3 separate regions of the Homo sapiens genome follow, and all the other regions are linked to region 2. Evidence: fine-mapped expression QTL. A gene starts in region 2. Each other region holds a variant in brackets. All regions are shown on one strand. Distances are between the middles of the regions.

Evidence for each region. PIP is the estimated chance that this variant, and not a neighbour inherited with it, causes the effect.
Region 1: its variant is the best candidate, but not a certain one, in a credible set for the expression of NPY5R in atrial appendage (GTEx, PIP 0.61).
Region 3: its variant is the best candidate, but not a certain one, in a credible set for the expression of NPY5R in lung (TOPMed, PIP 0.65).

Annotation. Positions count from the first base shown.
Region 1 is chr4:164,066,678-164,074,868 of GRCh38, forward strand. All of the region lies in intron 2 of MARCHF1 (membrane associated ring-CH-type finger 1), which reads right to left. Among named protein-coding and RNA genes, the nearest start is that of MARCHF1, 310 kb to the right of the region's middle. The variant C/T (reference allele first, on the strand shown) is at 4,067.
Region 2 is chr4:163,340,218-163,348,408 of GRCh38, forward strand. It overlaps NPY5R (neuropeptide Y receptor Y5), which reads left to right and starts at 3,675. Exons shown (of 4, transcript NM_006174.4): 1 at 3,675-3,783; 2 at 5,497-5,536; 3 at 7,235-7,305. It also overlaps a transcript of NPY1R not described here.
Region 3 is chr4:163,456,580-163,464,770 of GRCh38, forward strand. No RefSeq gene overlaps it. Among named protein-coding and RNA genes, the nearest start is that of TKTL2, 13 kb to the right of the region's middle. The variant CA/C (reference allele first, on the strand shown) is at 4,350.

The DNA of each region.
Region 1 (8,191 bases), 730 kb after region 2:
TATGCAGCCATAGAAAAAAAATGAGATCATGTATTTTGCAGGGACATGGATGGAGCTAGAGGCCATTACCCTTAGCAAAGTAACACAGGAACAGAAAACCAAATGCTGCATGTTCTCACTTATAAGTAGGAGCTAAATGATGAGAACACATGGACACACAGTGGGAAAGAACATACACTGGGGGCTTTTGAAGGGTGGCGGGTGAGAAGAGGGAGAGGATCAGGAAAAACAACTAATGGGTACTAAGCTTAATATCAGGGTGATAAAATAATCTGTACAATAAACCCCCATGATATAAGTTTGCTTATGTAACAAACCTGCACTTGTACCTCTGAACTTAAAAAAAAAAGTCTGACGAAGGCTTTTAATAGTATTAATTTTCCTCTTAATACTGCTTTTGCTGCATCCCCTAAGAGGTTTTGGTATGTTGTGTCCCTATTTTCATTAATTTCAAAACATTATTTGATCATTACAATGTCCATATGGCCCAAAGAAATTCACAGATGCAACACTATTCCCATTAAACTACCAATGTCATTCTTCACAGAATTAGAAAAAAAGTATTCTGAAATTGACATGGAACCAAAGAGGAGTCCAAATAGCCAAAATAATTCTAGGCAAATCTGGAAGCATCACACTACCTGACTTTAAACTATACTATAAGGCTAGAGTAAACAAAACAGCATGGTACTGCTACAGAAGCAGACATGTAGACCAATGGAACAGAATAGAAAACTCAGAAATAAAGGAGTATAACTGCATCTGATGATCTTCAACAAGGCCAACAAAAACAAGCAATGAGAAGAGGACTCCTTATTCAATAAATGGTGCTGAGATAACTGGCTAGCCATATGCAGAAGAATGAAACTGGATCCTTACCTTTTGCCATATATAAAAATTAACTCAAATGGATTAAAGATTTAAATGTAAGACCTCAAACTATAAAAATGTTAGAAGAAACCTAGGAAATACCCTTTTTTACATTGGCCTTGGCAAAGAATTTTTGGCCAACTCCCCAAAAACAAATGCAAAAAAAACCAAAAATTGATAAATGGTCCTAATTAAACTAAAGAGCTCCTGCACGGCAATGAAACTATCAATAGACAGTCTTCAAAATGGGAGAAAATATTCTTAAACTATGCATCCAATAAAGGTCTAATATCCAGAATCTATAAGGAACTTGAACAAATCAACAAGCAAAAAACAAGTAACCACATTAAAAAATGGGTAAACCATATGAACAGACACTTCTCAAAAGAAGACATATGAGCAGCCTAAAAACATATGAAAAAATGCTTATTATCACTAATCATCAGAGACATGCAAATAAAACCACAATGAAATACCATCTCACACCAGTCAGAATGGTCATTACTAAAAAGTAAAAAAATAACAGATGCTAGTGACGTTGTGGAGAAGAGGGAACACTTATACACTATCGGTGAGAATGTAAATTAGTTCAGCCACTGTGGAAAGCAGTATGTAGATTTCCCAAAGAACTTAAAACCGAGCTACCATTTGATCCAGCAATCCCATTGAGAGGTGACAGCGTGCTGGCAGCCCTCGCAGCCCTCGCTCACTCTCGGCACCTCCTCAGTCTTGGCACCCACTCTGGCCACACTTGAGGAGCCCTTCAGCCCACCGCTACACTGTGGGAGCCCCTTTCTGGGCTGGCCAAGACCGGAGCCGCCTCCCTCAGCTTGCGGGGAGGTGTGGAGGGAGAGGCATGGGTGGGAACCGGGGCTGTGTGCGGCGCTTGTGGGCCAGCATGAGTTCTGGGTGGGCATGGGCTCGGCAGGCCCCACAATTCGGAGCGGCCGGCCAGCCCCGCCGGCCCCGAGCAGTGAGGGGCTTAGCACCTGGGCCAGCAGCTGCTGTGCTAGACTTCTCACCAGGCCTTAGGTGCCTCCCTGCGGGGCAGCACTCGGGACCTGCAACCTGCCATGCCTGAGCCTCCCCCACCTGCCATGGGCTCATGCGCAGACTGAGCCTCCCTGACGAGTGCCGCCCCCTGCTCCATGGCCCCCAGTCCCATTGACCACCCAAGGGTTGAGGAGTGAGGGCGCACAGCGTGGGACTGGCAGCCAGTTCCACCTGCGGCCCTGGTGAGGGATCCACTGGGTGAAGCCAGCTGGGCCCCTGAGTCTGGTGGGGACTTGGAGAATCTTTATGTCTAGTTAAGGGATTGTAAATACACCAATCAGCACTCTGTATCTAGCTCAAGGTTTGTAAACACACCAATCAGCACCCTGTGTCTAGCTCAGGGTTTGTGAATGCACCAATCGGCACTCTGTATCTAGTTAATCTGGTGGGGACTTGGAGAACCTTTGTGTCTAGCTAAGGGATTGTGAATGCACCAACCGGCACTCTGTATCTAGCTCAAGGTTTGTAAATGCACCAATCAGCACTCTGTGTCTAGCTCAGGGTTTGTAAATACACCAACTGACACTCTGTATCTAGCTAATCTAGTGGGGATGTGGAGAACTTTTGTGTCTAGCTCATGGATTGTAAATGCACCAATCAATCAGCACCCTGTCAAAACGGACCAATCAGCTCTCTGTAAAACAGACCAATCGGCTCTCTGTAAAATGGGCCAATCAGCAGGATGTGGGTGGGGCCAGATAAGAGAATAAAAGCAGGCTGCCTGAGCCAGCAGTGGCAACCCACTTGGATCCCCTTCCACACTGCGGAAGCTTTGTTCTTTCACTCTTTGCAATAAATCTTGCTGCTACCCAATCTTTGGGTCCACACTGCCTTTATGAGATGTAACACTCACCGCGAAGGTCTGCAGCTTCCCTGCTGAAGCCAGTGAGACCACGAACCCACTGGGAGGAATGAACAACTCCAGACACGCCGCCTTAAGAGCTGTAACACTCATCGAGAAGGTCTGCAGCTTCACTCCTGGGCCAGTGAGACCACGAACCCACCAGAAGGAAGAAACTCCGAACACATCCGAACATCAGAAGGAACAAACTCTTTGGACACGCCACCTTTAAGAACTGTAACACTCACCGCGAGGGTCCATGGCTTCATTCTTGAAGTCAGTGAGACCAAGAACCCACCAATTCTGGACACACCATTACTAGGTATATACCCAAAGGAAAATAAATCATTATCGAAAAAAGACACATGAACTTGTATGTTTATCACCATGAAATTTACAATAGAGAAGACGTGGAATTAACCTAGGTGCCCTATCAATGGTATATTGGATTGAAAAATGTGGTACATATATACCATGGAATACTATGCTGCTGTAAAAAAGAATAAAATCGTATCCTTTGCAGAAAAATGGATAGAGCTTGAGACTGTAGCCCTAAGAGAGCTAATGCAGGCACAGAAAACCAAATACTGCATGTTCTAATTTTTAAATGGGAGCTAAACATGGAGCATACATTGACATTAACATGGGAACAACAGACACTGTGGACTACTAAAGTGGGGAGAAAGGGAGAAGGGTGTTGATTGAAAAACTATTTTTCAGGTACTATACTCCCTATCTGGGTGCAATATACCCATGCAGTGAACCTAAACATATACCCCCTATATCTAAAATAAAAGTTTAAATTAAGAAAAGAGTTTTCTGTCATGACACAATGTTAAATGTGACAAATAAGTGATACATACAGGCCTTAAATAAAATCACTATTAAAGTACCCTGCAAAAGTTGTGCAGAGCAACACCCCCACCCCAAGAGATTTGAGATATTCAGGAATTTAAAAGGATCCTTACCTAGAATTTTACCAGAACGTATATACAACAAAGACTGGGATCATTTTAAAAACTGGCTACTTGGGGATGTGGGAAAAGATTCAATGTGCATTTTTTGTAGAGTGACTACATATTCTGATTTGCCTGGGATGGTCTACATTCACACCAGCTGTCCCACCATCACATCTGGTTTCTCCTTTCCCTCTGAAAAGTATCCCAGCTTAGATGATAAATTACATGCTCAACCTATAATTCTATAGGTTATTCATTTTGGAAGGATTTTTAAGGGGTATGAAGTGAATTCTCTTGCTACATATTAATAAACAATTAAATGTCTGCAAGGCAGGCAGAGTTA[C/T]GCAGTCTATTTATATCAGGTTAAATGCCTCAATTCATTCTCTTAAAATATTCAAATATGTAATTGATAGAGTTTGGCTGTGTCCCAAAGAAAATTTCAACTGAATTGTATCTCCAAGAAGTCCCACAAGTTGTGGGAGGGACCCTGGGAGGCCCTTCTCCTACTGTTTGCATGATAATGAAAAAGTCTTATGAGATCTGACGGGTTTATCAAGGATTTCTGCTTTTGCTTCTTTGTCATTTTCTCTTGCCGCTGCCATGTAAAAAGAGCCTTTCGCCTCCCACCATGATTCTGAGGCTTCCCCAGCCATGTGGAACTATAAGTCCAGTTAAACCTTTTTTTGTTCCCAGTTTCGAGTATGTCTTTATCAGTAGCATGAAAACAAACTAATATAGTAATATAAAAATCTGTTTGACCTTTTTCAAATGTAAAAACTAGTAAGCAAGCAGCATTTTATCTCCTTTTCAAAGTAAAACATGTTTGTTCAATTGTATATGGTAATTTTCGTTTACAAAAACCATGACAGTATTCTTGAAAGTGTTGGCATTATTTCTCAAACCTAAAAGAAACAGAAAACAAAAGAAAGTATAATTTTTCACTAGCAGTTGAGTTTTTTGCATGGATTATAATAGATTTCACCAAAATTAAGTGGAAATTTATATTTTATTTATAATTCATTTTGAAATAAAAATTAATAGTGATTAAAATATGATACTTTTAAATATTAAGAAAATGTTACAAACTAGTGATATCCTTAAGAAATACAGCTATATTAATCTTGCATTTAATCAAAATATGTATTCATTTTATATAATACATATTTTTAAGTTAATAGTCATAAAGAAAACATAATGACAGTTCCCCAATTAATTCAACTTGTCATAAGGAATACTTAAAATTTTGTTCTGTTCCTTTGAGATGTTTTGCTGGTCTTACTTCTTTTTATAAGATCTATCTTTAGGTTGTTACTCACAACCCATAGCTTCCTAGTGGTAAACTTTGCTTTTAAAATTTCTCACCCTGCTTTGTGTTTCTGGCTCCTCCTGTAAGTATACACTTACCACACGGCACATATATGTAAGTATACACTTACCACCATGGCACATATATGAAATAACAATTTACACCTTTTTCTTTCAAAATTCTGCACTCTGGTCCAAAAGAGAAGTGTTTCATTGTATTTTTTAATGAATTTTTTAGTGCAGCAAAAAAGTAGAATTCATATCAAGTAGATAAATAGAATGCCAATAATATGACTATGCATCTGCAGATATTTTTTAACATAGAAACCAAAAAAAAAAAGAAGTAATAAAAGCACTTGTGCTCAGCACTTTTAGCTAGTCAAAATGACAATGAGTCATTTCTGACAGGCAAAAGTCATGGCTCCTTCGCCATTTGATATATCAAAGGATATACGCAGTGAGAGTAACACAGAAACTGCCGATATTACGTCGTAATTTGTTTCCTTATAACAAATATAAAAAACATTATAATTTCCCGTCATTTATTCATGTTTTCTCATCAGTGTTGTTTAGTACATAATGTCTTCTCTAGAAACAAGACTAGGTGCGATGGCTCATGCCTGTAATGCTAGTACTTATGGAGGCAGAGGTAGGTTCGAGACCAGCTTCAGCAACATGGTGAAACTGTCTCTACAAAGTATAAAAATTAACTGGGTGTGGTGGTGTGTGTCTGCGGTCCCAGCTACTCAGGAGGCTGAGGCGGGAGGATCACCTGAGCTCAGGAGTTTAAGGCTGCAGTGAGCCAGGATTATGCCACCACACGCCAGCCTAGGCGACAGAGTGAGACTCTGTCTTGAAGAAGAAAATAAAATAAAATAAAAATAGAAACAGATAAACTTTAAATGTTCTCATTATTTTCCTCTCCCTAAAAGAAAATTTAAAACATTATCCCCTTTTCAAAAATGAGAGCACTAAAACCCTTAAGAAATTTTCTCTAGTAAAAAAAAAAAAAAAAAAAAACTTCATTAGTGTTCTATATTCTAGATTTCATAGGAAAACACTGATGGATGAAGACATGTGTATTGAGTACCTATTAATAAAGGTTATTAGGTTATATTAGGCAATGGAGAAGATATAAAAATGTGTGAGAAATGTTTGCACCTGCCTGTAATTGAACTGGTCATATAAGACAACAGGAACAATTAGCATCTCATGTCAAATTAGTAGTAGTGATATCAAGCGCAATACAATTTCAGAGGAGAGAGCCTCACGGCAACTGTTTTTAACATAGAGGATGAAAATGAGTGAGTTTTAAAAAATGGTAGAATTCGCATAGTCAGAAGGAGAGAAGAAATTCCAGAAGAGGGGAAAAATAATGTAAACAAAGTCAGGAACAAGGTTTTCTTGAAGTACAGTGACTTGTACAGACATTATAAGTAAGCTGTAATTTATGAGCTGAGTTGATGAACAGGCAGATGAGTATTGGAAGTGTGTGTTCATTGTGGCACTGTTCGCAATAGCAAAGACTTAGAACCAACCCAAAATCCCCATCAGTGATAGACTGGGTAAAGAAAATGTGGCACATATACACCATGGAATACTATGCAGCCATAAAAAAGAATGATTTCATGTCCTTTGCAGGGATATGGATGAAGCTGGAAAGCTTCATTCTCAGCAAACTAACACAAGAAGAGAAAACCAAACACTGCATGTTCTCACTCATAAGTGAGAGGTGAACAAAGAGAACATATGGACACACGGAGGGGAACATCACACAGTGGGGCCTGTCAGGGAGTGGGGGGCAGGGGGAGGGATAGCATTAAGAGAAATACCTCATGTAGATGACAGGTTGCTAGGTGCAGCAAACCACCATGGCACATGCATACCTATATAACAAACCTGCACATGTACCCCAGAACTTAAAGTTTAATAAAAATAAATAAATAAATAAATAAACAAACAGAATATAAAGGCCTCTGAATACCAGCTAAAGGTTTTCACATCATCCTATAGGAAATTAACCACCACTAAATTTTGATAAACGGTAATATGATGAATACCCTATTTTAGAAAGTTTTTTTTTTGTTGCTGTTATTTTGTTGGGTTTTGTTTTGTTTTTGAGACAGTCTCGCTCTGTCGCCAGGCTGGAGTGCAGTGGCGCAATTTCGGCTCACCGCAAACTCTGACTCCCTGGTTCAAGAGATTCTCCTGCCTCAGCCTCCCAAGTAGCTGGGATTTACAGGCACGCACCACCACACCCAGCTAATTTTCGTTATTTTTAGTAGAGATGGAGTTTCACCATGTTTGCCAGGATGGTGTCAATCTCTTGCCCTAACAATAAGCAGTATATTCCCTGAGATCTTGCTATATATCAATTGTTTTGCTAGGAACTTTCCATAAGTATTTCATTTTGAAAGTAATTTTTGAAATAAATAACCACAATGCAAATTAATTAGCCTGCCTCCAACCTTCCCATGCCAATAACCTGTAATCAGGGGATACCTGAAGCCTTCCCTTTCCTTCACTACAAAGCTTTACCACCACCTTTAAGAGTCTGACTGTCTTTGAGTCTCTGCAAAAAGCAAGTGATGGTGATTATTCTCTTGCTACAACAAGTTCCGAGTAAGTATCCTCTGTTTGCTCTCATTCAAGTGGTTGGTTGTCCATTTCCAGAGTATGTAACAGGTACACGATTTTAGAGTAAAAAATAAAATGTATCATATCCTTGAGAATGGGAATAAATGTTCATTGATTCACTCTAAGTCGGGAAATTTATCCTCAGGAAATTAATATAAATAGCATAAAAATTCATCTAAATACTTTTTGCTTCATTATTTAAAATATTGAAAAATTAAAGCCAACAAGTCTAAAAATAGGTATTTGTTTAAACAAATTGTGGTAATAAAGAAAATGAAATACCATGTAGTCATTTTAAAAGTATGCAGTAAAGGAGTATTTATAGACATGGAAAAATTTCTCTGTTATGTTTTGAAAAGAAATGAAAACAGGTTATGTATAGTACAAATGGGACCATTATTAGTTTTAAATCGATCTTTAGTGGTTTCTCCTAACTGGCTTTGGTTAGGTAAAATTGAGGTTTTCTTCATTTTGTAAATATACATACTATATGTAAATTCATAAAAAATTTTATCTGAATAAATTT
Region 2 (8,191 bases):
AAACTACAAAAGGAAATAATTGTATGGCCTATATATGGATTGACATAATAAAATGTTATATTTTCAAAGGAATCCATGCTCTCTTCTTGTACATATATATATATATATATTTGTGCTGCAAAACTGAAAAACAATGTAATTAAAGAATGAAGTACTGATATGTAAGACAGCCATAACTTTTTGAAATGAATACATGAAATATAGTTAATACTAGCTGCAGAGAAGAGAATGTGCCAATAATAATGGAAAACTTTAGCATCAGTATTTTCTTTGTAAATTTTAATATAGAGGGAAAATAAACAATGCCTATGGCTATCAAATTTTTCTGAAGATCTAAAAATATGATTTTTCTACACATATGTTTGTAATGCATGCTAATTAATGGCATAAAGTCATAAGTAGTCAGGTCTCAAAGGGGACTCCAGATCTTCGATTCAAAATATTTCATTTTATAAAGAAAACGAAGACTGAAAAATCAAGTGCCTATCTAAAGCCACACCATTAATTTGAGATCAAGCCTGGCTACAACTCAGGTGTTCTGATAAGTGTCTATTATAAAAATATGTATGTAATACATGAACATATAAAATACATCTGTATCATATCTATGTGTGTATGTATTTTTAACATGAGTATTTGCTAGTAAAAATAATTATACATTCTCTCTGAAAGTCAGTCACTGTTTTATGGTATAATCATTAGGGCATCAAAAGGATAAATAAAGTGTTGCTTAAGGAGCACAGTGTTTATCAGAAGTCAATACAATGTTAATGATGCCCCCGTAGGACCTCACAATTATCGTTAAGTTGCCTGGGAAATGGACTCAATGCACACAATACTTTGGGCTAAACTTCTTTTCAATAGCTTTTGGGTTTTTTTTTTGTTCAAAAAAAAATCATGTATTTCATAATAAGAAGTTGGCTCCTCATTTGAAGTCCTAAATATTGATTTATGTGACAAATTATTACTATTCCAAAGAAATCAATGCAGCATAGAGCATCATAAAATATTTTTGATAACACATCTTTTAAGTATTAAGGATTTAAATTTACCGTGATAGAAAAAGTGGATGAAGAAACATTTACCCTTAAGGAATACAACGAAATTCTCAGAGAAATAAATGCATAAAGTAAAATAATACTGTTTTCTCTAGTTTATTTACCTCTACTTGTTCTATAACTAATATATCAAAGTCAAATATCATTTGAGATTATACCAAAACACTTTAGTAATTGCTTTCCACAAATAGTAGCTGTTATTAAAATGCAGCAGTAGCTTTGACAAGAACCACAGCCATGTTCCTCAGCAAAATACTACCCCAGGAATTGTTGGGTGACTGTTTTATCGTTCAATAATTTGTCTTAGGAGTCCCAAGTCACCTTTAACTTTTACCTTTACAGATAAGCTTTCTTTCATAACTGATAATGAACTGTAATAACAGGGCAATAGCCAGTTTAATTTTGTAACATGCATAAAATCCAACTTAATTTCCCAAATGAGCATTTTATAAATAGTGAGTAGGAAAAATACATAAAACAGAGGTGGACATTACTACTTCTGTTCTGGTATTCCCCTTCGCTAAGATGTTACTCCATAAAATAAAAATAAAATTATTATGTTCTACAAAGAGTAATGATGATCAGTCTCAAATCCCCCCTGGGAAATTTAAAGGTAAAAACACACTTATCTTCATATCTTCCTCTTTATGTAGCATATTGCTTAAATTTGTAAATTTATAATTTCCTCAAAAAAACTCTTAATAACTTGTCCACTCCAAGTGTTCTTAATACTGTGTATTGTCACGTGTATTTAAAGAAGAAATGCCAACTCCTGTTTTTGAGACTTGCTTGTTTGTGGGTGCAGTGGGAAGGGAAAATAGCCAGGTTAATTAGAATCTTTGTATCAGTGGCAGGTAGCCTTTTATTTTCAATACTCTAATAACAGTGACTTCAACCTAAAGGTTCATATCATCAAAATAGAAAACAAATTTGTGGAAAATAAAAAATAAGATTTTTTAATACTTTTAATATGCAAAAGCCTGTAGCATAGACTAGTGTTTTGAAAGTCACAATGGGGTTCACTTGGAATTTGTTTTAAAGACAATGTGTATTTGAAGTGTACATGTTATGACTGTGCAAGAGATGGAAAGATAGAAATTTATGTGGCAATGTGTACTGCATTAACCGCAGAGACAGTGGAGTTAAGAAAGTCTAAAAAACAAGCCTTATTTTCTCAAGGTCATCCCTTCTTGACACTTTCATCCCCTACTCCTTACTGCAGAATCCCAGGTGCCTGCTCAGACGGCCTATTCTGTTAAGCTTTTGGGGAGAATATATTAATATTTCAGAAATAACACACAGAAGAATAAAACAGGAACTGTGTTTACTTGAGTTCTTTAAAAGCTCTTGGATGACTCTTTGACTGATGAAATAGCAATCTATACAGATCCCCTGAGTATTGAATGCTGAAATCCAGCAGAAAGGGGACACAAAAAATTTTCTTTGACCTCTTCTGTAACAGTGATGTCTGCCCCAGATGTTAGAATTACAAGTCACATTGCTCCCAAGGGGTACAGTTCTCTTCGGTTTATCCCACACGACTCTACTCAGCAGGAGATGCTGTCTGTTACATAATAGTTCTCAGTATTAAAGGGTACAATAACTACACCCTTTCTCATGGTAAAGCTATGTCCAAAGACACATGGACATCTACCCAATGTCTCTTTTCTCCCTTCTCTCCTTCTCTCTCTCTCTCTCTCTCACAGACACACACACACACACACACACACACACACACACACACGCGCGCGCGCCTAAAGTACCTGCCACCTAATGATTAGCTAAAAATAAAGCAAACCTGCGCAATACAGATTTGGAAACATTAGGGATGGAAATCATGTTGGGAAGGAACAGAAGGACAGGTTTTCTCTTCTTCTTTTGTGTGGGCTTTTTTCCCGTCTTTTTTTTTTTTTAACCTGTGACAATTCGTTTTTAGCCCTTCGTCTTCTCTTTGCTATTGAATATAGTCTTGAGCAGCGTTGATTTCATTTCAGCTTCACTCCCCTGCTCCTGCCACTTGCCCACACCCACAGCTGCCACTCCTTGGAGTGGGGAAACTTCCCTTCTATTCTGCTGGGCTCATTACCGCAGACGCTGTTGCCTCTCCTGAACATTGGGTCAGCCTCCCCACCTCCACTCTTCCTTACTTCAAAGAGGTGCAAAGGAAGAGCAGTGTTTTGTCTTTTTTCTTTCTTTCTTTCTATCACCACACCACCCCCCACCGTCCCCCACCCCAAACAAAGATAAAACCTGAGAGTCGAAGCTTGTTCTCAGGAATACTAAGAACTTAGGGGCACAGCCATCCTCACACCAGTCCAAGACTTCTCAGAGTTCACTACACAGGGTTGAGGGCTGGACCGGCAAAACTCGATTTGCCCATCAAGTTAACTTGGTCGGCCTGGGACCCGAGGCCAGGGTGAAGGGACGACATCCCGGGGCCCTGTGGCTTCTCCCTAGAGCGCCCAAACAGCGGCGTAGGTCTGGGACGCCCCCGGCCCCCGGCTTTGGAAGAGGCTGGCGCGGAGCAGGCGCCTTGGAGCAGGGTCTCGGGGGTCCCCGGAACAGTCACGTGTTCTCGAGACGCCGTTAAACCCCCGCCCCCTCTTCCCCACCGCCGCCTCCAGGTCCTGCTCCCGCTGCTGCCGCCACCGCCGGGGTGCAGGAGCGATCGCGCTGGGCCGCGCTCCCGGGAGCCCAGGGCCTGCAGCGGCCGGGGCGCCCCGAGGTACGGGCTCCCGCCCCTCCCTGCCAACCCCTTTCGCGCCGGGTAGGCCTGCACCGAGGGGCCGTGGCGGGTCCCCGCGCGGGCTGCGAGTCTGCGCAGGTCCCTGGGAGCCCGCACCCGTCTCTGGTGCCAGGGCGTTGTCGGGGGTCCCAAGAGAGCGGGGTGGGGAAGGTGAAGGGAGCGCGGCTGGAAAAATGGGGATTAGGGTGGCGGAACAGGCACTTGTCAGGAGTGAAGAGACAGCGGAGAGGGTACTGGGCTGAATTCTTTCGTGCCGAGCAGGTCCCTCCGGTTCCCAACTCACCCGGGTGGAGCAGGCGCGGGCCGAACCCGGGAGGAGAGTGTCGGGGATCCGCGAAGGAGCCTCCTGGGGATGGGGCGGGGGATGGACAAAGCGCTGCCCCCGGCTGGACGCGCTCTGGCTGCAGCCCGGCTGGCATCCGGAGCTGGGAACAGCAGCCCGCGGGGTGCCCGGGTCAGGGCTCAACCCTAGCGGGTCTCTGGCGAGGCCGGGGGCGCAGCCCGCGGGGCGCCACTCAGGCCGTCCAGCTGCCGCGCGGTCCAGCGCTGACCCGAGCCCGGGAGGCAGCTGCGCTCTAAGGTTTGCGCTCCTGTTTGCGAGGTGTCTTCATATAACAAATGCGAGCAATAACAAACATCCATAGAACTCGAATTCCAGAAACGGGAATTCTTTTTTCCAAGTTCACAGACCTTTAGTTAATCTTTTAAAGGAACTGAGGCGTTGTGTTGGACCAAAGCCAAAACGATTTTACCTTAGACCATGGAAAATAGCCTAAGGCTCTTTCAGCAGAATTTTGCAGTCCGAATGCAATTTTAGATTTCAGATTTCTCAAGGGAAGAGAAACTCTGCTGTTAGAATTTGGAAGGGAGGGTGGTGCATGCCTGTGTGTTTGTCAGCTGAGCAGAGCTGTATTTATCTTTCCAATTCAAATTGTGCCAGATTCTGGCTTTAAGAACAAACCATGGGAATATTTGAGAACATGGAATCATGCTGCTGTTCCACGATCACAGCAAAACAGACAATAGTTGATATTGTATCATTGCAGGAGGAAAAAGAATTACATATATTTTATTCTTTTGTGTGATTGTCATCCTTTGTGAAAAGAATGATGTGTATTTTCATAAAGCAAAAAATTATTCAAACAAAGAAACCTTATTTAAATGTACAAGTCAGACTTTTAATATCCTTTGAATTCCCTGCAGTTCCTCCTATTATTCTTGAGAACTATCTACTTTCTTAAAATACTTAAAATCTATTCAGAAGGTTTCATTTGTCTAGGTGTCAGATATAGAAGAGTTTATAAGAAAATTCCAGTAAACCTTTAAAAAGATATTATTTTTTATAAGTTGCCATAGTTTAATAAAGAACTTTTATTTTTCACACTTTTTACTCAGAGATTAAAGTTCTGTGTTTCAGCCTGGAAATTCTGATGGTGGGAGATACAACTAATACAAAAGAGAATGAGTAAATATAGTAATTAGGTATGACAAAAGTCTCATGCTGTCAATATCAGATTTCTTGTCAAATAATATTCCATGTTAAAATATTTTTTCTCTGGCTATATTTCATAATTTATATAGCAATTTCAGAAGATTCACATATATCATTACTTTTATAATAGATAAAATATGTTGCATAAAAATGTACAGCACTCGTAATAACACTTGTTGAAATTTGGATTTCCATTGTAGGTCTGCTCATTGTGTTTTTCAGGAAAAAGGAAGGGAAAGGGTAAGTTTAATGGAAAAAATCCTGCTTTTTTGTTTGTTTTTTCATTTTAAGTGCGTTCCTGTACCTTAGATTTTCAACTTAAATCTTATTGTACAAAATTTTCCTAATGTTTAAACTATCCCCTGGCTACCAGGAGGCACTTTTAAAAAAACTACACGTCCACCACCACCCCTCCCCCACCCCCCCTCCCTGCCTCCAGCATTTGCAATATTCATTATTTAGTCGTAAGAAGAAATTCTTCCTTCATTGGAGCAAAGATTCACAGAATGTTCATTCTGTGCAGACTATATATTAGATATTACATGTGTGTATGTTTATGTGGTAGATGGTGTGGGGTGGGGCTAGAGGGAGAGCAGGAGAAAGTTGACTACAGTCACACCAAAATAAAATGAATAAATGAATGTTGAATGAATGAATGCTAAGAGAGAATTTTTTAAATTTGCTTATCAATCTATCAGTAGCTACATAAAGTATTCATTATATTCAGCAGTAATGCATGTGTCCATGCTATAGAGAAATAATATATTACTATCAGTCAGGAGAATGCCATTCATTTATTAATTCATTCATCATCCAATTTGGGGCCTTTTATATCTCAGCAATCTACAGTTACTCAGGGTGTGAGCTTGAATTAATCTATATAGAATATTCTTGGCATAGCACCTTGCATTAGTCGTCTTTATGCTTAGAGCAGAGCAGAGCACCTAGCAGAATATATGTTCAATAAATACTTTTTGAATGAATAAAAGAAGGAACAACTAATCATTCTTAGCTGTTCATTAATAGAAGGAGCCTACCCTTTAAAATTATATATAAATTATCTACTTTCTTAAAATACTCAAATGTTTTAAGGAATGAAAGAAGCATCCTCAGTTTTTTCTCCAGTGTCCAATGAATACTCAAGATGGCATTTATTTCATCTTCTTACTAAGGAGATGTGGTTTTACAATTTAATGCATTCAATATTTTATGTGCATATATTTAAAATAAAAGTTTTAATAACAGACTGCACAGTCGTGGAAATGGATATACTTCTTTTTTCATTTACATTTTTTAAATGTTGTAAATATATCTTACAGTTTTAGTTGCATGTTGCTTGTGTGATAGCCTTTATCAATGAAGTTATCCAAATTTAAAGTGCTAAACTATCTTTATTGTCTGTCTAGGTATCTCCTCCTCATTGCATTTTGGGGCCATTTGAAACATCTATAATTTCAATGGTTCTCTATAAATGTATATATAAAGATACATATACACACATATATATGTACACACAAAAATATAGTCATACTCTATCCTGAATTTTCCCACATTGCCAGAATGATTCATTTCTGTTATTTTAAAGCAAGGGAAATTAAACTGCTTTTCTAAAACGATTGGTAAGAAATATTTACTTAGCATCCACTATGTGTAATATGCTTTATTAAACATCATTTCTAGAATGAAAATAATTAAGAGTTTTATCTCCATTCGAATATAATAGAGAGGTCTAACCACATGGAATGGAGAAAAATCTGAATTTTAGACTCAAAACTACATTGTTTCTATTACCACAAATTGTGCTGCATCTTCTCTTTCTTCAAAAAATTTTGGACAGCAATTTTACACTAAGTAAGTATCATCCACAGTTACATGTTCCAAAAAGGCACAAAGCCGTTGTAGAAGGGGCCATCTAATTTCTCTCTTGTTCTTGCTTAGGTGTTACAAGGAAAGGCTATCGGTAACAACTGACCTGCCACAAAGTTAGAAGAAAGGATTGATTCAAGAAAGTAAGTCAAGAGAAGAACAACTAAGCAGGATTGCAGTTACAAGCAGCCTGTACACAATTATAAATATAAATAGGATCATGAATAAGCTGAATTGAGCCAGGGGATCATCAGAACTCAGGAAATTAGGCAAAAGCACCAGTCAAAGCTGTTTTGATTAGAAGCTTGCTGACCTATCCAGAGTAGGTGCTGAGAGGCCATTGACTGGGAATATGATGAATAATATGATTCAGTAGGTCATGCGAGTCACTTTTGTACCAGGTGTTCTTTGTCATTGAGGCAATATCAATGTAAATTGTTGGCTAGGGTCTAAGAATGAATGAATACAATCCTAAGTCTTTGAATTAACTTATCCTTTAAAAGGATGTAGTTAGCTTCCAGAAAATAATTTGGTCAACATAGAATCACTTGTAGAAGTTGTGAAAAACTTGTAACTTTTCTCATAGCACAATGATGACTCTGTCATCCTGTTTGAAACTTGCTACACATAGAACTGAAGTTAAACTTATTTGTAATGAATGTATGTACACAATAGTATTTGCCATTTGGAAATTTATTGAACGAAGACCTGCAGGTCCCTCATAAATTAAAGATAACAGTGTTTACTATTAATTTAAATAAACATGTATTTTTATAGTTTTAGTATAATTATTCAATTATAGATCTAGAAATAAGTAGATAAACATATATTGATAGGTAACAAAAGTGGTTTTTTAACTATATATATCACAATCTCTACGACAATGTATTTATTGGAATTAATTTCTTTGTTGGTTTGTGTTTTCTGTAGGAAATTCTTGTTAAAAGAACATTAAAGTGGCTGGGCACAGTGGTTCATGCCTCTCATGCCTATAATCCCAACAGTTTGGGAGGCCAAGGTGGGAGGTTT
Region 3 (8,191 bases), 120 kb after region 2:
CTCCTGGGTTCAAGCGATTCTCTTGCCTCAGCTTCCTGAGTACCTTGGACTATAGGTGCATGCCGCCAAGCCCGGCTAGTTTTTTTTTTATTTTTTTGGCCTCCCAAAGTGCTGGAATTACAGGCCTGAGCCACCGTACCAGGCCAGGAGTGGTATCTTGTATACACATGATAGAGGACATGTCTTTATTGTATTAATTTCAAGTATTCTGATTGTGTAGAGTGTGGAAGAAGGAATAAAAGAAAGGATAAGAAATGCATGCAGTATTTAAATTGTGAATGAGAGATATTAGACTGAAGGCTCCCAGTGTGTGAAAGCCTCTATTACTTGCTGTCCTGAAGCTAGGAATCCAAGTCCAAAATCTCTTTTTGCCAGTTTTCACCATAGTAGCTAAGAACAGGGATGGATATTTTTTTTTCTTAAGGACTCTAAATTTATTAAGGTTTCTTGCCTTTCTTTCCACCTGTACCAGGCCAGCTTTCCCGGGAGGACTCCATAGGCATTGGTCCCACAAGTACATCAATCTTTGTTCTTTAAAATATCTGTACTTTAAAATACCTGACTTGATAATCACCATTCTCAGATATGATACTCCATATTGGAGTGGTTGCATAATCTATATGTCCAATTATTACCTGGTAAGAAGGAGAACAGTTTCTTACCAAATATATGCAAATAACTACCATAAGGTAACTTGCCGCCAAAAAATAAGGAGATTTACTTAAATTTTCCAATTCTAGCAGGAGAGGGTGTCATGAGAATCAGATATTATTTCTAAAATGCTTCACTGGAATTTGTAAAATCAGTGTTGATTAGATAGCTTAAGAAGAAAGAGAAGTAGCTTCCTTATATATCTAAAAAAAAATTGTAAAAACAAAATCAATAATACTCCAAACAGATAACCATAATACATTTTCCCCCATTAGTCCATTTAGTCATTAATTGTCGTCCTGTGGGATCATGAGTTAGCAGTCACATTATATCATCTGCTTCTTGTCTGGAATTGAGTTCTGGGTATCCTGATTCAGTCCACTGATATGTTTGAAAGTTGTCTAAACGATATCTGCTCAGAAGTCTGTCTTCAAGAGTCTGTTATCTGGATAGTCAGTAGTTTAAGTACCTAGTACAGTCTCTTACTTAAGTCTCTAAAACTGTTTTACTTGTTGAAGAAAAAATCTCTGATTTTTGGTTTTGGCAGAGACTTCAGGCAAGCATCAGGTTCAAATGAAAACTGTCTGTGGATGATGGTTATTTAAAATGGCTGTACTTAACTTATTCCTAATAACAGTTAAATTTGAGAGGTCGAATGAGGGTTCAAAATAAGCATAATGCAAGTGACAAAAAAATTGTTTCTGAGGCATACAAAACAAACAACAACACACTTCCAAAATCAAAGTTAGACAAAATATTCCTAAGGTCAATAATTAAGCCTGTTTTCAAGACATTGAATATCACATCTGATTTACACAAATGTATGAACATGATTTTTATTAAGAGAAAAACTCAAGATATGTGATAAAGTGGTTCTGAGACTTAATTTTATAGATCAAGTATGTAAAGCAAAAAAGATGCAATAAGTCCAGAGTAGGGCCTAGACATCTGTATTTCTCTCAAACTCCAAGGGTAAGTCTGATATGTATGCCCAATTGAGAAAATTGAGAACTAGTGTCTAACAGATGTTATATTTGAATTAAAAAGGTATTACTATCATCAATTGACATTTTAAATAATAACTGAAATTATGACTACTATTTATTATCAAATATTGGGCAAAGCAGGAAGCTGTAAGCTATACAAAAACTGGACAAATATTCCAAAGAGCTATGATAACTGTTTCTCTTGAGATTGAAACATATTATGGACAGCGAGGACATTAACAACTCTCTCTAAACTTCCATAAAGCATGTAATTTCTTAAATATTGATATTAATAATATTTTACCTATACAAAGTTAGGTCAATGAAGGCTGAGAATCAATAACTATTCCCATGCAACTGTTATCATAGTAACACATCAAACAAACCAAATGCTTTCTAGTATTTCTATTTATAAGGTGAAAAAAATATTTTATTTTCCAGGTGCCCTTTGGGCTATCTCAAAATATTTTCAGGTATAAAAGATATCCTGACAATTGCATTCATTTTTTATGTATTTAGAATCTGATTTGAAGAATGCAAGAAAGAAAATAGAAGAGGAGATTTAGATACTTGATTAAGATATGGTCTGATAAACAATACTTGTTACATATTTAATAAAAGTTATAATAAAATGCTTTTTTAAAAAAATAGGCTCCACAATTAAAAAGAACATTAGCTCTTTTATAATTGAAAATATTTTCATATTGTGGACAAAGGTGTTAATCTATAACCCAAGGAAGAAGAAAGACTATAAAAATTGAACAAACTGTACAATTTTAACACATTTTACAGACTTTTTTTCAGTCTCAGGTATGATAAATCAAGGCGAATAAAATTTACTTTCCAAGTTTTCCTATGTTTTGCTGTCGTCTTATTTTAAAAATATCTATATATCTAATGATTATGTATTAATTAACACAACTTTATATCAATCAGTTTTTTTTTTTATTTTTTTTTTTCTGAGACGGAGTCTCGCTGTAGCCCAGGCTGGAGTGCAGTGGTGCAATCTCGGCTCACTGCAAACTCCGCCTTCCGGGTTCACGCCATTCTGCTGCCTCAGCGTCCTGAGTAGCTGGGACTACAGACGCCCGCCACCATGCCCAGCTAATTTTTTTTCGTATTTTTAGTAGAGACGGGGTTTCACCGTGTTAGCCAGGATGGTCTCACATCCTGACCTCGTGATCCGCCTGCCTCGGCCTCCCAAAGTGCTGGGATTACAGGCGTGAGCCACCGCGCCCAGCCTCAATCAGGTTTTAAGTTATCTAAAGGTCTTAGAATTTATCTTTAAGCTGACATATGACAAAATATGATTAGTCTTGAAACAATGTTTATCAGAATAATAATACAATTAAGGTGCATAAAAACTTACATTTTCACAATCATAAACTTTATGTTAAAGTTAGCTTATTTTATCAGTAAGCCTATTAAAGTTTATTAAAAACAAACTCAAATGTAATAAAATATAAGTTGGTCTTAAACTTCACATCGATTAATCAGAAGACAGTTTTTTAAATTAAATCAAAATTGTTAGATTGGGCTTCTTTGCTTAAAGATTTATCTTAATTTAGCTTGAAACCTTAAAACATTTCTAAGTTTTTGCAAGAAAATAAATTTTAGATCTAAAATTTTTTTAGTTATAAGTTTAAAGTCTTTGTTTTCTTGAAACATTAGGAATATTTGATTTATATACGCACTGATTTATCTCTATAAGCCCGCTGAAATACAATTCTTTTAGTTAAAGTTACTTATAATCTAAGTTATTAATATTCTCCTACATAGGAGAATTTTGGCCACAGGTCAAGAGACACAAGAGATAAACAACGGGGTTCACTGGTTCAGATATCAAAAAGCTGTTATTTTTCCTGTTGAAGCCCAACTTCTTAATTGATTTGAGATTAAACTAGGCAAATAAAAAGCACACAAAAGAATCGTGAACCAGTCATTGTAGTCTCTAACAAAACAGTGAACATATCTCTATGTCCGTTAATCCATTTGTAGATCTCACCAAATGGTCATATCCATGATCAGCTTCATCCGTGTGCAGTAGTGCAGACTTCTACACTTGGTGTAATTCTCTGCTCTTGCTGACTCGAAATTCTTAATATTTTTTTAACAACGGGTTTTGTATTTTTATTTTGCATTAGGCCCCTCAAATTATGTAGTCAGTACTATTATTTTTCTTTTTCAAAATGTCTTGGCAATGTTCAGGCATTTATTTTAATACAAAAACTTTAGAACCAATCTATTTTCTCCTCACCCTAACCACCCTAGTACACCTTACCCACTCCCCACACATCCTTTTGGTATTTTATCTGACTCATTCATTTGAGAAGAATTGGCATTTTTATTATTTTGAGACTTTCCATCCTAGACATAGTTTATTTTGACACCTACTCAGATCTTGTTTTTTGTGTTTCTTTTGACATCTACTCAGATCTTGTTTTCTTTGCTTCAGTAAAATTTTATACTTTCTTACAAATAGAGTTTGTACTTTGTTAAAGAAGCTATTTACTCTTTTTTTTTCATTATACTTTAAGTTCTGGGATACATGTGCAGAATGTGCAGGTTTGTAACATACGTTTACATGTGCCATGGTGGTTTGCTGCACTCATTAGCCTGTCGTCTACATTAGGCATTCCTCCTAATGCTACCTCTCCCTTTGCCCCCAAACCCCCGACAGGCCCCAGTGTGTGATGTTCCCCTGCCTGTGCC[CA/C]TATGTTCTCATTGTTCAACTCCCACTTATGAGTGAGACAGATGCTGGAGAGGATGTGGAGAAATAGGAATGCTTTTACACTGTTGGTGGGAGTGTAAATTAGTTCAACCATTGTGGAAGACAGTGTGGTGATTCCTCAAGGATCTGGAACTAGAAATACCATTTGACCCAGCAATCCCATTACTGGGTATATATCCAAAGGATTATAAATCATTCTACTATAAAGACACATGCACATGTGTGTTTATTGCAGCACTATTCACAATAGCAAAGACTTGGAATCAACCCGAATGCCCATCAATGCTATTTACTCTTTATCCTTACAATCTCCTTACCAATTGCCACTTGAATAGCAAAATAAATGCTTGATTCAAGAGCCGGGCACAAAAAAGTTTGTGAAACAGATTTAAGAAAGTAGGGAGGGAGAGTGGAAAGGAAGCAGAGGAAATCAATTGTCTATAGGTATTTCAGTACAAATTCAATGTTAGAAAAAAATAAAGAAAAGCCTTCTTGCTGAAATAGGATGACTTTTATGGGCTGGATTCATTTCTCAAGCCAGCAACTTGTCATGTCTACCTGGCACAAATGAGCCCCAATAAACTAAACCTGTGGAATTAAAATTTTTCTCCTTACATACTCCCAGAAACTTTAAGGTTACATTTAATTTTTAATTATTATTTTAAGGATGTAGCTTTGGTCATGTTACTAATGTTTGTGTCCTTTTATGATTCAGTTGTTAAACATATTTTTAATACATCCAATAGAATTAAAATGACATATCACATCTGAGAGGGATAAATTAATTCTGACTATAAGAAGCAGGTTTTCTGAAGTGCAGGGCACTCTGCCCTAGACTGGCCTAGATTGTAATAGCAGCACATTTTGCCCAGCACACGCACTTAAGATTTCTACTATTAAGAGAGCAGATTTTTACCTAATTTGTGGAAATTAACATAAAAAATAGGAAAAGGTATTGGACCGAAGGTAAATATAAGGTTTAAAACAAGTACATTGATTATTATCTTTTAAATGCTCTTTTTATACAGTATAATCCACAGTATACTGAAGTTAGGTTAATGTAAATCTAGTAAGTTCATGGAATAAATACACACCATGAGAGATAACCAGGAATGTTACTGGTAAATAAACAGAGCTATGGTGTATCAGTGACAAGTGGGAATCTGATACCCACATGAAAAAATGCACATAGTCGTACATTATCCAGGAATTTTGTCACAAGTCAAGAAACAGATGTCTCCTATGAATCTAAATAAATAGTAGGGAAAAAAGAAAACAATCTACTGGTCTTCCAGAAATACATAGCAAATTTTAACTTCCTCTATCTTATCATACAAAGCACAAATGAGTGACAGCCATTTTTTTTTCTTTTGTTTTCTTTTCTTTTTTTGAGATGGAGTCTCACTCTGTCACCTAGGCTGGAGTGCAGTGGCAGGATCTCGACTCACTGCAACCTCTGCCTCCCAAGTTCAAGCGATTCTCCTGCCTCAGCCTACTGAGTAGCTGGGATTACAGGCACGTGCCACCACGCCTGGCTAATTTTTGTATTTTCAGTAGAGACGGTGTTTCACCATATTGGTCAGGATGGTCTCGAACTCCTGACCTCATGATCCGCCTGCCTCGGCCTCCCAATGTGCTAGGATTACAGGCATGAGCCACTGCGTCCAGCCGAATGAGAGTCTTTACCAGATTTCTTCTCCTTAGTGAGACTGAAAATGCCTTTCATAAGTCTTGAATATTCCACTTCAAAAATGCATAGACAGATAAGGCATAGAGACTTGTCAGAACTTGTAGACTGCATGAATCAGGTGCTACCATCTTCAGTATTCCTTACTGTTGTTCTTGGCTTTGCTCCCCTGAGATACTCAGCAACAGTGTTTTGACAATAGTTGAGTGATGGGAGAAAAGACTTTATTAAACAAAAATTGTGATCATTGCCACGACTCCAATCTATAATATATGTTGAATTCATAACATGTTTTTATGGGTTAAAGTAACTTCCTACTTACAGGATTCATTTTCACCAATATTAGGAGTAAAACAAGGAAAAACACTATGATTTACTGCTGGTTCATAGTGACTTCATTTAAGGAGGTTTTGCCAGAACCAGTATTTTGAAGTATTGGTTGGTGCTGTGACAATTTCACAACTGTCAATGAATAATAACATTAAGAATGGAAAGAAGTATGCCTTTCTTTCGAAAAGTAGAAAAAGGGTAATTATGAAAGACAATATTGGAAATGATGACAGGGGTATTCCCAAACAGATCAGTTTTAGAAACAAAAACATGGACTTCAGGACCTGGAAGCAGACGCACTTAAAATCTTCCATGCCGACATACCAAGATCCTTCCAAAGTAGGCCTACCTCAGTTTGAAGACTGTGAACTTCACTCGCTAGAAGCACTTTAATGGGATCTCTTTAGTTTAACTTCCTATAGGACATTTAATAATATGATCTCTTTAAATGGAAGATTAAAAAGAACTATAATCCAGATGTAACAGCATCAAGATGCAACTGAATTTTTGTGGAAATTGTCAGTCTGGTTTTAAAATTTATATGAAAATTAAAAGACCAGCAATAGCCAAGGCAATCTTGAAAAAGAAGAACAAAAAGTGGAGGAAATGGAGAACTTAACTACTGAATATTAAAGCTTATTATAAAGCAATGATAATTAAAACAGTACAGTATGAGCATCAGAATAGACAAATAGACCAATAGGACAGAAACAGATCTACACATGCACAGTCCTTTGATTTGTGAGAAAAATAACACCATGGTGCAGTAAGTGAAGGGATGGTATTTTCTTTAAACAGTGCTATGTAGTTGTGTCAATATGAAAAAACAAATCGCGTCTCGACCCCAACTTCACACCACACACAATGATCAATTCCAGGTGAATTGTAGATTTGTATGTAAAAGATAAAAATATAACATTTGCAGAGGAAAACATAAGAAAATATATTCAATAATCTTGGAGAAAGCAAAGATGTTTTAAACAGAATACAAAAAGTGCAAACCAAAGAGAGAAAAATGATAAATAGTACATCAAAATTAACTCTTCTGTTCATCAGAAGAAACTCTTAAGGGAGTAAAATGGAAATACACATAGTGACAGAAGATATTTGAAATACCTATATTCCAATAAAGGGTGTATATCCAACGTATATATTCATAAAAATCAACAATATACAAACAACCTATAGAGAAAAGACAAAAACCAAATGTTGTGGAGACTGAGGTGTCACCTGAACTTTTCTTTTCTTTTCTTTTCTTTTTTGAGATGGAGTCTCACCCAGGCTGGAGTGTAGCGGCAAGATCTCGGCTCACTGCAACCTCCGACTCCCAGGTTCAAGCGATTCTCCTGCCTCAGCCTCCTGAGTAGCTGGGATTACAGGCACGTGCCACCACACCCAGTTAACTTTTGTATTTTTAGTAGAGACAGGGTTTCACCATGTTGGCCAGGCTGGTCTCAAATCCCTGACCTCAGGTGATCCACCCGCCTCGGCATCCCAAAGTGCTGAGATTACAGACGTGAGCCACTGCACCCAGTCTATTTTCTGACATGAGAGTATAAATTAGCATAATGACTATGGAGAAGTTTGCAAGAATAGCAAATAAAAATAGAATACCCATTTATGTAAAAACATTTGGCAGTATATACTAAGGATGAATATATGTACAGCCAATGAAAGTAATTCTCCTTGATTTATATAACCAATAAAAATAAGTTAATGTGTTCCCCAAAATACTGGTACAATAATGTTCATAGTAGCACTACTTGTAATAGCCCCCAAATAAATACACCCACATGTTCATCAACA